2 separate regions of the Homo sapiens genome follow, and region 1 is linked to region 2. A link means that fine-mapping ties the variant in region 2 to the expression of a gene that starts in the linked region. Tissue or cell type: monocytes. Region 2 holds a variant in brackets; the other region holds the start of a gene. All regions are shown on one strand. Distances are from middle to middle. Region 1 holds the start of RABEP1 (rabaptin, RAB GTPase binding effector protein 1). Region 2 overlaps RABEP1 (rabaptin, RAB GTPase binding effector protein 1).

What was found.
Region 1: RABEP1 starts here. The variant in region 2 is fine-mapped to the expression of RABEP1 in monocytes (Quach 2016, PIP 0.95).

The regions. Positions count from the first base shown.
Region 1 is chr17:5,277,741-5,286,189 of GRCh38, forward strand. It overlaps RABEP1 (rabaptin, RAB GTPase binding effector protein 1), which reads left to right and starts at 4,544. Exons shown (of 18, transcript NM_004703.6): 1 at 4,544-4,780. The coding sequence starts at 4,747. RefSeq lists a silencer at 4,264-4,983 and an enhancer at 6,831-7,349.
Region 2 is chr17:5,302,421-5,310,420 of GRCh38, forward strand. It overlaps RABEP1 (rabaptin, RAB GTPase binding effector protein 1), which reads left to right. Exons shown (of 18, transcript NM_004703.6): 2 at 6,274-6,402. Among named protein-coding and RNA genes, the nearest start is that of RABEP1, 24 kb to the left of the region's middle. The variant G/GA (reference allele first, on the strand shown) is at 4,207.

The DNA of each region.
Region 1 (8,449 bases), 24 kb before region 2:
ATCTACCCTCCTACCCCTAGTGTAACTTTCTTTGATATTTCCATGTATTTTGCACAGAAACTTTTGGATAGATACTTCATTCCTTGGGTCTCCATCCACTGCAGCTGGTCAGTGTCCCTGCAAAAAATGGTGCACAGAACCAACATTGCTGATGTGACCCAATCAGGATAATGTGCAGGAGATGCGTCCGTTCCTATAATCTACACTGTGTGACTATATTAATGAAACATAGAGTGAATGCTTTCTATCAGTTCCACAGAACTTGCTCTTTTTTTTTTTTTTTCAGACGGAGTCTCGCTCTGTTGCCCGGGCTGGAGTGCAGTGGCGCGATCTCCGCTTACTGCAAGCTCCACCTCCTGGGTTCACGCCGTTCTCCTGCCTCAGCCTCCCAAGTAGGTGCGACTACAGGCACTCGCCACCACGCCTGGCTAATTTTCTGTATTTTTAGTAGAGACGGTGCTTCACCGTGTTAGCCAGGATGGTCTCCATCTCCTGACCTCGTGATCCGCCCGCCTCGGTCTCCCAAAGTGCTGGGATTACAGGCGTGAGCCACCGCACCTGGCCAGTTTGTTCATTTTCATTGCTGTAGAATATTCCATTGTATGTTAAAACTTTTTTTTTTTTGAGGCAGAGTCTCGCTCTGTCGCCCAGGCTGGAGTGCAATGGTGTGATCTTGGCTTACTGCAAGCTCCGCCTCCTGGGTTCACGCCATTCTCCTGCCTCAGCCTCTCCAGTAGCTGGGACTACAGGCACCCGCCATGATGCCCTGTATGTTAAAACTTTTTAAAAATCTAGTCCACTGTTGATGAACATATGAGTCCTTTATTTATCGTATTATGAACTATGCCACTGTGAATATTCGTGTGTCTCCTGGGGCACATGGGCAATGTCATTGGTAACTAATTATTTCATGTGTTTATGTCTTATTCCCAATTTCCTTCAGAACATAAGAATCACATCTTTTATACTTAGTAAAGACTTTGAGCATACATTTGTTTTCCTAAAATATATTCCTAGGGGTGGAACTGCTGGGTCTTAAGGTTTACCTAAAAATACGAAAATGTTCAATATTCTTGATGCTCCTATCTGATTTCAAAATGGCTTTTTAACTACTTCCCTCACATGGAGAGCCCTAGGTGTCCAAATCATATGCCTGACCATTTCTGAGGGACCTTGACTTGAGGGCCTGGCTTCAAGCCTCATTATCAATGGCAACAAATTTGCCACTCTCTCACTGGAAGGAGCCCCTTCTATTTTATTTTTATTTATTTCTTTTTTTTGAGAGGGAGTCTTGCTCTGTCGCCCAGGCTGGAGTGCAGTGGTGCAATTTTGGCTCACTGCAACCTCTGGACCTCCTGGGTTCAAGCAATTCTGCCTCAGCCTCCCGATTGTAAGTGCCCAACACCACGCCTGGCTAATTTTTGTATTTTAGTAGAGACAGGGTTTCACCATGTTGGTCAGGCTGGTCTTGAACTTCTGACCTCAAATGATCTGCCCGCCTCGGCCTCCCAAAGTGCTGGGATTACAGGCGTGAGCCACCACACCTGGCCGCATCTGCTATCTTTATGGCTTATGCCTCGTGTTAGTCATCACAACAATACAGAGGATGCACTGGGCTGCCCTATCCTGGCCAAAGGTCTTCCTGGTAAGCATGGATTTGCTCATCCAGGAAAATCATTTATGGGGGGTTGGGCAGGGTGTTGGGGAGACCCTGCTTGCTCTCTCAAATGCACACCAGCCATTTGGGAGACATTAACTGCTCAAAAAACTCGAGTCTGTATTTTGGCTCTCCTCTAACGATGGCAGGACCTGGGGCAAAAGTACAAATAGATACCTAAATTATTTAAAATTACAAACCAGTTTGGACGTGGTGGCTCACACCTGTAATCCCAGCACTTTGGGAGGCCGAGGTGGGTAGATCACTTGAGGTCAGGAGTTCAAGACCAGCCGGGCTAACATGGTGAAACCCTGTCTCTACTAAAATTACAAGAGTTAACTGGGCGTGGTGACACACGCCTATAATCCTAGCTACTCAGGAGGCTGAGGCAGGAGAATCACTGGAATCCGGGAGGTGGAGGTTGCAGTGAGCTGAGATGGTGCCACTGCCCTCCAGCCTGGGCAATAGAGTGAGAGACTCCGTCTCCAAAAATTAAATAAATAATAAAATAAAATAAAATTACAAACTACTCCAATTAACCGCTAACCTTAATACAGTCTATCCTTCTACTTGGACAAATCTACCTGTTTAAGACCTGGAAGACCAGGTTTAAATTTAGAATTCCTGGGCTCCTGGGAGTTATGCCCATGAATGAGGTGGCGAAAGCAGCACAGGCCCTGGCCCAACTATTGTCTCTTGGCTCACTTGCCTTCTTTTCTCACCTCTGTCCTGCACCATGAGGGATCTGTGGACATAGGAGCTCAAACACCCAAGTGTCGTGTCACCCCCTTAAAATAAAACAAAGCTGCCCTTTAGCCTCCCTTTTTTTCAGTGAGAAATAATCATTTTAATAAAAGTATACCTTATTTAAAACAAATGATTTAAAGAAAGTAGAAACTGATTCTAATTAGTGGATTTTCTGATTATTATTATTATTATTTGAGATGGAGTCTCGATCTGTCGCCCAGGCTGGCAGTGGTGCGATCTTGGCTCACTGCAACCTCCGCCTTCTGGGTTCAAGCAATTCTCTGCCTCAGCCTCCCGAGTAGCTGGGAGTACAGGCGCCTGCCACCACACCCGACTAATTTTTTGTATTTTTAGTAGAGATGGGGTTTCACCATCTTGGAGAGGCTGATCTTGAACTCCTGACCTCGTGATCCACCTGCCTCAGTCTCCCAAAGTGCTGGGATTACAGGCGTGAGCCACTGTGCCCGGCCTATTATTATTTTTTTATTATACTTTAAATTCTTGGATACATGTGCTAAACGTGCAGGTTTGTTACATAGGTATACATGTGCCATGGTGGTTTGCTGCATCTATCAACCCGTCATCTAGGTTTTAAGCCCCGCATGCATTAGGTATTTGTCCTAATGCTCTCCCTCCCCTTCCCCCCACCCCCCACAGGCCCCGGTGTGTGATGTTCCCCTCCCTGTGTCCATGTGTTCTCATTATTCAATTCCCACTTATGAGTGAGAACATGAGGTGTTTGGTTTTCTTTTCCTGTGTTAGTTTGCTGAGAATGATGGTTTCCAGCTTCATGCATGTCCCTGCAAAGGACATGAACTCATTCTTTATGCTTTCACTTTAGCTTCTTTTAGGGATGTCTAGACTCTGCCATAGAGAGAATGGATCTGGGAAAGAGACCACAGCTTCAGCCATCTGGAAAGGGAATTCTGGGGCCACAAGTATTCAGAACTTGGTCCTGAAGTGCCAAACCCTGTGGACTCCCTCATCCTGGGGTGGGATTGCTGGGTCTTAAAATGTACATAATTCCTGATGCTCCTCTCTGATTTCAAAATAGCTTTTTAGGCCGGGCGCGGTGGCTCACGCCTGTAATCCCAGCACTTTGGGAGGCTGAGGCAGGCGGATCACGAGGTCAAGGGTTTGAGACCAGCCTGACCAACATAGTGAAACCCCGTCTCTACTAAAAATACAAAAATTAGCCGGGTGTGGTGGCGTGCGCCTGTTGTCCCAGCTAGTCGGGAGGCTGAGGCAGGAGAATTGCTTGAACCCGGGAGGCAGAGGTTGCAGTGAGCCGAGATCGCACCATGGCACTCCAGCCTGGGTGTCAGAGTGAGACTCTATCTCCAAAAAAAAAAAAAAAGCTTTTTAAACTACCTCCTTGGCATGGGGCACTCCAGGTGTCGAAATCAGACGGGGAGTGGTGATTAGAGGGGAGTTCCTAAAGTATAGGGCCCAGGGGCCCAAGTATAAGGGCCACACTTTGTGTATATGATTTCTCCTTTCCTGCCATGAGTGCAGGGTCTGTACCTGGCTGTATCTCCAGCATCTATCACGACTGAAAACCCAAACGTATTTGCTGAATGGATAGTATACTGGCCTCTGCACCAGAAGACCTGGGGTCCAGGCCCAGTACTGTCGGAAACAGTTCTTCATACTTTATTACCTCGTTTAAACTTTTCTTAGCCATTATATTGATAAAAATTCCAAGAGGTGAAGTGACTCTCCCAAGGTCGCAAAGCTAGAAGAGGTAGAGGCTGGAACTGCACCCCGCCATCGGTCCTCCTCTCTTACTCATTTTTTTTTTTCCCCTCACTGTGCTGGGGTGGAGAACCGGGACCGGCACCTTCGAGAGGCCAGGCCTCTGCTGCAGCCCCTCTTCTCCAGCTCCGCTCGGCACTCAGCCTCCCCGCGCCGCTGGGTCAGGCGCCCAGCTCCGCCGAAACCCTCCCCTCCCGCCGCGCTCCCTCCGCGCTCCCTCCGCGCTCCCTCCGCGCTCCCTCCGCGCTCCCTCCGCGCTCCCTCCGCGCTCCCTCCGCGCTCCCTCCGCGCTCCCTCCGCGCTCCCGAGGCCCCGCCCCTCCCCTCGGGCCAACGTCACGTGCCGCCCCATCCCCCTGCGCCTGCGCACTGCTTATTTCCCGCTGTCAGGATGAGGAGGCGGAGGTCGGCGGTCGGGTCCGTCTCTGCCCGCGGCTGTGGCGGCGCCGGCGGATCCAGCCTTAGCGGTTTCTCTCTGGGCGGCGGCGGCGGCGGCTCGGTTGACGCCTCCTCCGCCAGCTGAGCCCGCGGGAGCCCAGGACGCCGCTTCCCCGCCCATCCCCGCTCCCCGAGGCCGGCCGCCTGGTCATGGCGCAGCCGGGCCCGGCTTCCCAGCCTGACGGTGAGGCGCCCACCATGGCAGGCGCGGCGGGCGCGGCCTGCCCGGCGTCGGCGTCGCGGGAGGATTTCGGGGCGGGCAGGCGGCGGCAAGGGCGCGCGCAGGCCCCGGGGGTGACCCCGCCGGGCGGAGGCGGGGGCGCGCGGGCTGCGGCGCGCGAGGGCGGCGCGGGCGCCCCGGCTGCCGTCGCTGGGGAGGGGGCGGGAGGCGCGGGTGCAGCGCTTGCGGGAGGGCAGAGGGAAGGGCGTGGGGAGGCTGCTGGGTAGCGTGGGGTAGTGTGGGGAGGGAGCGGTTCTGGGTAGCGGGGGACCGGCACGTGGGTTCTGCCCGTGGGGGAGGATGGAAATCGGGAACATGTGCTATATTCGTTAAAGAAAAAAAATCTTAGCTTAGGTAGTGTACCCTCCCTGCCGCCCCAATCCTTGCTATAGAACTCTTTGCACCCAGTTATGTGACCTGAAAGTAGTTGTGTACAGTAACTGGATTTAGTAGCATTCCCTGAATGGCAGTGTGGCTTAATGGTTAAGTGTTGGGGCCTGGGAGTCTAGAGGACCTGTATTCTTAACCAGCAAGCTCTGGGCTCATTTCTTAGCCTCGTTGAGCCTCAGTATTCTCACCCACGAATTAACCAAGAGGTTAATTCATGCCTTTATATTTTATCTATAAAAATAGCAACACGAATGTGTATATACAATAATAGTATTATGGAGGTATTAGGAATAATGAGAATAGTGTTTGAGAATGCTGAGGCCTACTTGCACTACTTGAAGATATTTGCTTGTGGAACTAAAAAAAAAAAAGTGAAGTCGAAGAAATGTGTCATTTATATTCTTGGAAGGAAAAAAGGGCCCCATCCTAAATAATCAAAGTTGGTTGTCAGAGCCCTTCGTGACCTTCTGGGAAATTGGACTAAGCTGTGCTTCACAGATTGACTACATGGTTCCAGGTTTTACCACCTAGAATAGATGTTTGGAAATAGTGTGCTTGGGCTTTTCCAAGGTCCCACTGTATCTAGTTGTGAAAGTACTTTCTGGTGTATTTCTATAATCAGCGTGTGTGCTTAGCATCTTTAAGTGTGAGTAGAGTAGAATGTTGGGAAAAGGGGCTTGGTACGGAGTAGGTACTTTAAAACTTGGCTTTCCTTGGGGTTGTCTCAAAATAACCTTTCGTGAAACCCTTACTTTTTATTTTTGCCTTTGGGGAACTTGAAACCATGTTATCAGATTTTAAGGTTCTGGCTGCTCTCTGGGAAATGTGCTTCAGAGCCTGTTAGCCTGTAGTTTTGGGTGTTGTTGCTTGCCTAAGGGGAGATGTCCAGTAAGCATTTAGACTTTTATAAGAACCTGCTTTGCTGTTTCTGTTCCAGGAGAAGGGAAGGGAAGCATTTTTGGTGGGCTGTCAGAGAGAGGAAACTGGGATGTCTTCAGGCTGCATTTTAATGATCACCTTTTGCATTTGGTGTCAGGCAAGAAAACTTTGTTCTTCCACAATCCCACTTTGTTACTGCACACAGAGGCAAGATACAGAGAGCTTGTGGTTCTGAACAGGAGTGGTAGGTATGCATAGCTGGCTGCTGCCTTCTCTTGAGTTGCATGGAAAGAAACGTCTAGGGCAGCTCAGGTGACATGACCGTCTGGAATCAAAATTCCCTGCCTCTTTGAAGATATGAAATGGTCTTCCTTGTAAATAGGCAGAAGTGACTAAGCACTTGAACGAGGCTAGGGAAAACTAGCTTTAGGAAATCTTGTATTCTTGGTATTTTAGTTCAGGTTTCTTTCCTATTTCTCAAATCTTGTGACTCTAGGATGAGATTTAGTTTGCATAGATTGCAATTTTTATTTTAAATTAATGTAGGTAGCCATGGCTACTTTTTACAGTAGGAGAGAGATAATTTGGTACGTTTGAGTGCCTTGTGTCAGTGCCTTAGAAGTTCATCTTGGGGATTTTAATTTTTTTTTTTTTCTTTGAGACAGTATCTCACTCTGTTGCCCAGGCTGGAGAGCAGTGGCGCGATCTTGGCTCACTGCAGCCTCGACCTCCTGGGGTCAAAGCAATCCTGCTACCTCAGCCTCCCAAGTAGCTGTGACTACAGGTGCATGCCACTATTCCCAGCTAATTTTTGTATTTTTGTAGATACGGCGTTTTGCCATGTTGCCTAGGCTGGTCCCAAACTCCTGAACTCAAGGGATCCACCTGCCTACACTTCCCAAAGTGCTAGGATTGTAGGTGTGAGCCCGTGAGTCCGGCTTTTGGGGATTTAATTTGTGTCTTTAGCTGAACTCATGTAGACCATTTTAGCTTTAGGCACGTTTGAATTTCCTAGTCCTGCTGATTAAAAAAAAAAAAAATCGCCAGAATTCTTTTGTGTCAAACTGGTGGTGAAAGATAACTAACTGCTTAGTCTTTGACTTTATCTTGTTTTATCCTGTTTCAGAAGCGATTGTCTTTGATGACTTTTTAAAAAAAAAAAAATATTGTCTGTTTTTCATGGCCATATGGTAGATTAGGAAAATCGATTTGTGTGTAAATCGAAGGGATGAAATGTAATCATTTTATTCATTGTAATTATTTTGTAAGTTAAAAAAAGTTTTGGGTTTTTGATACTGCATCTTAGTTTACTTATTTGGAATACAGGTAATTTTAATAGTTAAAGAAATTTCAGTTGATCTGTTTTCCCTTGAGAATTTAAAAATGAAAATTTTCTAATTTTAGTATTTCTTTTAATCTAAGTTCAACTATATCTTTGAAGCATTTGCTCTGGTTTTACTTCACTTTTTTTCTTTTTTTTTTTTTTCTTTTGTAGAGAGGGTCTCATTGTGTTGCCCAGTCTGGTCTTGAACCCCTGGGCTCAAGTGATTCTCCCATCTTGGCCTCTCAGTGTTGGGATTACAGGCATGAGCAACTGCACCCAGCCTACTTCATTATTTTTTATTCTTGCCATGTTGGCCAGGCTGGATTCCTGATTGTTTCCTGTTAGTTACACAGACATGCTACCTTTTACCCCTGAAGGACATGCTTTACATACATAAGTCTGCAACTTCCCTATCTCACTTAATAAATGTTAGCTATCATATTATATACTCATGGTTATATGGCCATGTAATGTTCTGCAAACACTATAGGCATTATCTTAGGAAATCTTCATAGCAATGGTACTATTGAATATTACTGCTTCTATTTTCTTGATGAGGAAACTGAAGCACACAGAAGTTAAAGAAACGTGCCTGTGTTATACAGCTATTAAGTGGGGGAGCAGGATTCAAATCCATGCCATCTGGCTTATGTACTAGATCATGGACTACTTCCAGGTCAGTGTTGTAGGCCTTCTTCATTCTTCTTAAAGACGATCTTATCATATGCATGTACCAGGCATGATTTATGGCCTATTTCCCTATTGTGGGGCAAGTAGATTGTTTTCAAATTTTAATTATTTTATAAGCAGTGTTGTAATGGATGTCCTTGTGCATATTTTTTAAGGTACTCTTTTACTTCTGTAAGACTAGTGAATTAAATAAAGGGCATGAGTTCCGAGTGGTTTAAATTTTAATACCTGTTGCTAGCTTACTCTCCAAGGCATCAATTTACATACTTGCCAACGATATATGGCAGGTGGATTTCCCCTGTAATCCTACAAGCTCTGGATGATGTCATTTGTTTTAAATTTGTGTCTTT
Region 2 (8,000 bases):
GGTATAGATAGGGTTTTGCCATATTAGCCAGGCTGGTCTCGAACTCCTGACCTCAGGCGATCCATCCCCCTCGGCCTCCCAAGATGCTGGGATTACAGTCATGAGCCACCACACCCGGCCAGCTTACCTTAGTCTATAAAGTTACCTTATAAGCTTTTTAATTTTTTAGACTTTTTTTTTTTTTTTTTTTGGAGTGTAGTGGTGCCATCTTGGCTTACTGCAGCCTCAACCTCCCAGGCGCAAGCGACAGGCACACACAACCACACCTGGCTAATTTTTGTATTTTTAGTAGAGATGGGATCTCACTCTGTTGCCCAGGCTGGTCTCAAACTCCTGGCCTCAAGCAGTCCTCCCACCTTGGCCTCCCAAAGTAATGGGATTATAGATGTGAGCCACTGGGCCTGGCTAGGAAAATCTTAAGTGTAGTTTAAAAAATGATTTTATAGACTGTGAGTTTCTTAAGAGCAAAATTTAAAAAATGATTTTTTTTGTGTTGAAATATTTTAAGACCATTAAATTATGAATACTTTTTTATGAGCAAATAGATTGAGGTAGAGCAATAAAATAATTCTTAAAACAAGAAAGATAAAGCATCTCATTGCCTTTTGATTTAAATCTCATCAGCATAATTCTTTTACTACTCTGAATGCCATTTTGGATATTCATTACAGTCTTTTTTTCTATATAATTTTTGTGTAGCTCATACTGTGCTATGTATAATGTATTTACTTAATATAACTTTTTCTGGCTTGGTATTACTTCACTGAATGAATATGTAGGATGGGTAGGATATACCTACCATACTTAATAGTTTTATTTTATTTTATTTTATTTTTTTTGAGATAGGATCTCATTCTGTCACCCAGGCTGGAATGCAGTGGTGCGATCTTGGCTCACTGCAACCTCTGCCTCCCAGGTTCGAGCAAGTCTTGTGCCTCAGTCCCCCAAGTAGCTGAGATGACAGGCACGCACTATCACGTCCGTCTAATTTTTGTATTTTTGGTAGAGACAGGGTTTCGCCACATTGACCAGGTTGGTCTTGAACTCCTGTCCTGAAGAGATCCACTTGCCTTGGCCACTGAAAGTGCTAGGATTACAGGCATGAGCCACTGTGCCTGTCCAATAGTTTTATTTTAAAATCCAGTGAGAAACAAGATAAGACATATGAGTTTTAGGAACTGTTCAGATTCTTTGATCCCACTGGAGTTATTTTTTGTTGTAAATTGATTGAAATAGGTGTTTTCTTGGATTTTGAACATCATTAAACAAAAAGGTTTTGGTCGTAGTAAATTTCACATTGCTTATGTCTTTATCAAATTTAGTGTAAAGATGCCAGGTGTGGTGGCTCACACCTATAATCCCAGCACTTTGGGAGGCCAAGGCGGGCAGATCACTTGAGGTCAGGAGTTTGAGACCAGCCTGGCCAACATGGTGAAACCCCATCTCTACTAAAAGTACAAAAATTAGCTGTGAGTGGTGGTGGGCACCTGTAATCTCAGCGACTTGGGAGGCTGAGGCAGGAGAATCACTTGAACCCCAGGAGGCAGAGGTTGCTGTGAGCCGAGATTGCACCATTGCACTCTAGCCTGGGCGACAAGAGCGAAATTCCATCTCAAAAAAAAAAAATAAATAAAAATTTATTATATTGTTTTACTTGTAAGAGGAACGTAGTAGTAGGACACAGCTTGAGTCTTAGAAATATTTTAAGTTATTGCGTGTTCTCTTGTTTATATCAAAATTATTATTAGGTCTTTACTCCATTTATTTATTGTATTCTTTTTTCGTTTTGTATTGCTGTTGCTATTTGAGACATTCTGAATTGAGTGACATAGTCATTTTTCCCTTTGGATGTCAAGCATTATAAGTAGCCATTGCATGGCTGGATGTGGTGGCTCACACCGGTAATCCTAGCACTTTGGACGGCTGAGGCGGGTGAGTCATCTGAGATCAGGAGTTCGAGACTAGCCTGGCTAATGTGGTAAAGCCCTGTCTCTACTAAAAATACAAAAAAATTAGCCGGGTATGGTGGTAGGCTCCTGTAATCCCAGCTACTTGGGAGGCTGAGGCAGGAGGATCGCTTGAACCCAGGAGATGGAGGTTGCAGTGAGCCAAGATTGCGCCACTGCACTCCAGCCTGGGCAACAAAGCAACAACTCTGTCTCAAGGAAAAAAAAAAAAAGTAGGCAATGGATTAGATAATTTCTCCCTTTTTCTTATTGCTCAAATGAAGGCAACAAATACGGGATGTGTGGAACTGTTGACAAAGGCTGGCATACTGATATTCTCAGCCTTCTAAATTTCAGAAGGTTTAATTTTGTTGAAGGCTGGCATTACAGTAATTAGTATTAGTTTGTTCATGATGCTATAAAGATACATGGTAATAGGGAAGGATATGAGCTGGAAGTCTCAGCATGGAACTGAGTCAGAATCTTGAGGTTGGAAGTGACTTCTGGTCTTTTCTGGCTACATACAAAGTCATTTGATCACTACTTTTTTTCTTTATTCATTAAATAAATACTACCAATTTAATAATGACAGCTAACACTTATCAAGTTTGTTCTATATGCCACACTAAGTACTTTTTACATGAACTATTAGCTAATGATAGTGACCTATTAGTTACCATGTTATAAAAAATAATACAGCATTTTGTGTGATGAGAGCTATTTTCTCCTTGATTTGTGGTTGGTTGCTAATGCATTAGGATATGCTTATTTGTAAACTTTCTCATATTGAGAGTGAATCGATTTGTCTCGATGTTGTAGTAAAGGCATTCTTGTAAAAAGCAGTTTTTTTTGTCTTTCTATATTGTAGAATTGCAGTATGTTAGAAGTACTTGAGGTGGATGATCACTTCTTAAAAATAAAATAAGACAATTACTCGATATACTCTCAAAAGATCATGATTTCTAGAACTGAACACTGTCCTGAAGCCTGGAGAGAGCCAGGCTTTGTGGGTATAGAGTGGGTCTAAACTGTGGGTCAGAGCCATGAAGGGGTTGGGAGTAATGGAAACATACTTAATCTTGGCTGCATCTTTAACAGCTGCATTTTTGTTTTGTTGATTCATTTGCCTCATTTCCTAATTATAAATATATTAATGTTGAGGGGTATGGGTGTTTCGGTTATGTGTGCATTTTGGTAGAAGGTAGGGATAGGAGGGGATACATCTTATTAGAGAAAAATAAGAACAGAGGGATTTTGGTTTTTCTCTTTCCTTGATTCCCCAGAGCCCTTTGTTACCTCTGTACTAATCAGTAGCTACCAGTAATACTAAAGTGTTAAGTGGAAAAGTTGTTTAACTTATTAAACAATGTGGATTTAACAATAAAAATACCAGCAGAATTAGCACAGAGAACAGATTTCTTTCATGATTTCAAAGGGTAATATGAGATAATTGCACATTTTCCTTCCAGTGGATTTCTCATCCCTCTTTTTCTCAAAGTTATCAAACCTTCAGTTGACCAGAAGTCAGTGCTTTGACTTAGAGACCCTACATGTTAGTTCCTCAAAAATTACCATTAGTGACATGGAACTCAAACCAGCAGTCATCCTCTTTCGGCAATGATTGCACTTACACTATTAAATCTATAGTGAGGCTAGTTTCAAGGTCTCATGGGAATGAACACATAGCGATGCTTCTCGACTTACCATGGGGCTATATCCCATTATAAATTGGAAATAACATAAAATGCATTTAATATACCTAAGTTACGGAACATCATAGCTTAGCCTAGCTACCTTAAATGTACCCAGAATGCTTATATTAGCCTGCAGCTGGGCAAAATCTTCTAACAGAAAGCCTATTGTTGACAAAGGCTGGCATACTTACATTCTCAGCCTTGTAAATTTCAGAAGGTTTAATATTGTTGAAGGCTGGCATTATGGTAATTAGTTTGTTCACGATGCTATAAAGATACATGGTAGGCCGGGCACGGTGGCTCATGCCTGTGATCGCAGCACTTTGGGAGGCCGAGGTGGGTGGATCACCTGAGGTCAGGAGGTCAAGACCAGCCTGGGCAACATGGTGAAACCCTGTCTCTACTAAAAATACAAATATTAGCTGGGCGTGGTGGCATGTGCCTGTACTCCCAGCTACTCGGGAGGCTGAGGCAGAAGAATTGCTTGAGTCCGGGAGGCGGAGGTTGCAATGAGCCAAGATTGCACCACTGCACTCCAGCCTGGGTGACAGAGTGAGACTCTGTCT[G/GA]AAAAAAAAAAAAGATACATGATAATAGAGGAGGGTATAAGCTGGAAGTCTAAGCATGGAACTGAGTCAGAATCATGAGGTTGGAAGTGACTTCTGGTCTTTTCTGGCTATATACAAGGTCATTTGATTGCTACTTTTTTTTGTTACTCATTAAATAAATACCACCAATTTAATAATGACAGCTAACAGCTAACATTTATCAAGTTATAGTAAAATGTTGTATATCTCATGTAATTTATTGAATCCTCTAGTGAAAGTTGAAAGTAAAAAAGAGAATGGTTGTATGAGTACCATAATAAAGTGGAAAAATTGTAAGTGAAACCATCAGTTTGAACCATCTGTGTTGGTTTTAGTTCATTGTCAAAGGAATACATATCTGCATAGAAGAGAACTTTGAGAAGCTTATGGAAGGCCAGGTGCGGTGGCTTATGCCTGTAATCCCAGCACTTTGGGAGGCCGAGGTGGGTGGATCATTTGAGGTCAAGAGTTAGAGACCAGCCTGACCAACATGTGAAACCCCGTCTCTACTAAAAATACAAAAATTAGCCAGGCGTGGTGGCACATGCCTGTAGTCCCAGCTAACTGGGAGGCTGAGGCAGGAGAATTGCTTGAACCTGGGAGGCAGAATTTGCGGTGAGCCGAGATCGCCCCACTGCACTGTAGCCTGGGCAACAGAGGGAGACTCCGTCTCAAAAGCATATGGAAGAAATTAATGAGCCATAATTCTGTTACTCATAGATAAATCATTGGTACATTTTTTCCAGTCTTTTTTTCTATACATTTTAAAATCAGCTCTCAATTAAATTGAGTGATTGGGAGAGGGGATAGCCTTCAAAGATAATCTCAGATCTTGATTAAAATTCTAGGCAAATCATCATTATCTGGAGTGACTTGCAGTAGGAAACTTGGCCCTCTGCTGGCCTAAGTAGTTAGTGGTTGATTAGTACTAACCGATATCCCCTAAAGGGATTATGGTCATAGCTTTAAGGCTGGGATGCTGTTGGGGCAAAAGGGGAGATCAGGGGTTTGCACAGCTGGACCTCCTATCTTATGCTTCAATCAAAGGAACCCCTGGGTTTGGTCAGGGAAGGCAATCATTTAACCAGCTGTGTCCAAATTATAGAGTCCATAAAGTAAAAAGTCTGCTAATCTCCGCACACCATGATCAATGTTGAAAACATGGAAGAAAACCAGATTATCTCCCAGTAATTGAGAGTTTATATAGAATGTGCAGTTCTGTATCCTCTCTATGAATGGGTTTTTGATTATGATCTCAGTATAATGGTAATGGATCATTTTGAAGTTGGAAGAATAGTTCAGTCTGGTATGGCTACACTAGTTAGGGAACCTATTAGATTTTGCTTGTGACACTTGAGAGAAATGGGAAATAGCAAGATTGGCAGTAGGTTCATTTGTGGGATAAGTAGTTCAAATAATCCAATATTTAACAGTTCTAAAATTAAATTGCTATTCAGTTGCACAAAGGCACTTTAGAAGCTCTTTTTTTTGTGGGGAAGTTGGCCTTATGTGATTCTCTGTATATTTGTGGTTTCACTTTACATGACTCATTTACAGTTGTGTATTAAGTCTAATACAAGGATCTTTTTTTTTTTTTTTGAGACAGAGTCTCACTCTGTCACCCAGGCTAGAGTGCAGTGGTGCGATCTCGGCCCACTGCAACCTCCGCCTCCCGGGTTCAAGCGATTCTCCTGCCTCAGCCTCCTGAGTAGCTGGGATTACAGGCACCTGCCACTACACCTGGCTAATTTTTGTATTTTTAATAGAGATGGGATTTCTCCATGTCGGCCAGGCTGGTCTCGAACTCCTGACCTCGGGTGATCCGCCCGCCTCGGCCTCCCAAAGTGCTGGGATTACAGGCGTGAGCCACCATGCCTGGTCTGTCTTACTTTTTTTAAACATTAGAATATCCTAGCATATGGTGGATTTTTGGAAGAAGCTTGACTACTTGTTTCACGTATAGCAATGTACAGCTAGAATACTAATTTACTGTTTTATAAATTTATGAATAAAAGTTATTACTTGTTAACTAGTGTTTTTTTCCCCCAGTTTCTCTTCAGCAACGGGTAGCAGAATTGGAAAAAATTAATGCAGAATTTTTACGTGCACAACAGCAGCTTGAACAAGAATTTAATCAAAAGAGAGCAAAATTTAAGGAGTTATATTTGGCTAAAGAGGGTAAGTTCATAAGTCTCGCACCAACTTCAATGCGAAAACTGCCTTAAAGTGTTGAGTTTCTTGGTAGTAGTGTTAATTTTATCATTGAATAAACCTTGATTTTATTTGTACTTGCATAATAAAAGAATACTGTTTAAAGGCTAGGTTAAGAATGGGATTGAAAAACAAGTTGAAAAATGCCTTCTTCAGATTTTGCCTTGTTTTTTGATCTTACTGTTCATATTTAGGTTGCATAGCCTTGAGATAAGAGAATGTTATTGCTCTTAACATTTGGGATACAGTTGTGGGCAAACTAGGATTGTTGGCATTCTAATAACAGCTTTAGCTATGTTATCTTTAATTCCATGAAACATCAGTTTTACCCAACAAATATTCAGTTATTTATCAATAAATATTTATTTAATATCTACTATGAGGCAGACATTATACTTGTGTTGGGTATACAGAAAGAGGAAAATTCATGTGGTTCTTTAACTTGGTTGAACTCAATGAGCAAAACAGATGTTAAGTAATTGTGTGATGAGTCGTTAAAACAGGAAATTGCAGGCTGGGCGCGGTGGCTCACACCTGTAATCCCAGCACTTTGGGAGGCCAACGGGCGGGGGCGGATCACCTGAGGTCGGGAGTTCAAGTCCAGCCTGGCCAACATGGAGAAACCCTGTCTGTACTAAAAATACAAAATTAGCTGGGCATGGTGGCGCATGCCTGTAATCCCAGCTGCTCGGGAGGCTGAGGCAGAAGAATTGCTTGAACCCAGGAGGCAGACGTTGAGGTGAGCTGAGATTGCGCCATTGCACTCCAGCGTGGGCGACAAGAGTGAAACTCCCATCTCAAAAAAAAAAAAAAAAGAAAAAGAAACTGTATAAGGAAAATACATGAGAGAACATGTTGGGGGACCTGATTTGAAGGATCAGGGAAGGGGCTTACCTTCTGAGTATCGACCTAGAATAATGTGAATGTAGTTTCCACAGCTCTCTAGACCAGTGATTCTCAAAGTGTGATTGTGGAACAGCATCATTATCGTCATCATCACCTGGGAAAGTTGTTAGAAATGCAAATGTTTGGGTCCCACCCAGATTTACTGAGTTAGAAACTGTGGGATTTGGGTCCAGCTGCACACTAAATTTTGAAAACTGCTCTAGTCTATAATAGAATAGTGGCTCTCAAATTCAAATGTGGATAAAAATCACCTGGAGAGCTTGTTAAACCACAGTATGTTTGGGTGGAGCCCAGAAATTTGCATTTCTAATAAGCTCATAGATGATTCCAGTTACTGCTAGTTCAAGTACTACAGTTTGAAAAATCCTGTTCTGGACTAGTGATCATGCACCTTTTTTAACTTATGAACTCTGTAAAATATATACTTACATACAACCTTCATACATGTTAAAGTTGATGTTTAAAATTTTTTGCTTGAAAAGATGTGAAGGATAAAATTTTATATTGTTGATATTTACAATTTAAATGAAAGCTTCGTCCTTTTTTTTTTTTTTTTTTGAGATGGGAGTCTCCCCCGACATCTTCCCCTGTCACGCAGGCTGGAGTTCAGTGGCACTATCTCAGCTCACTACAACCTCCGCCTCCCATATTCAAGTGAT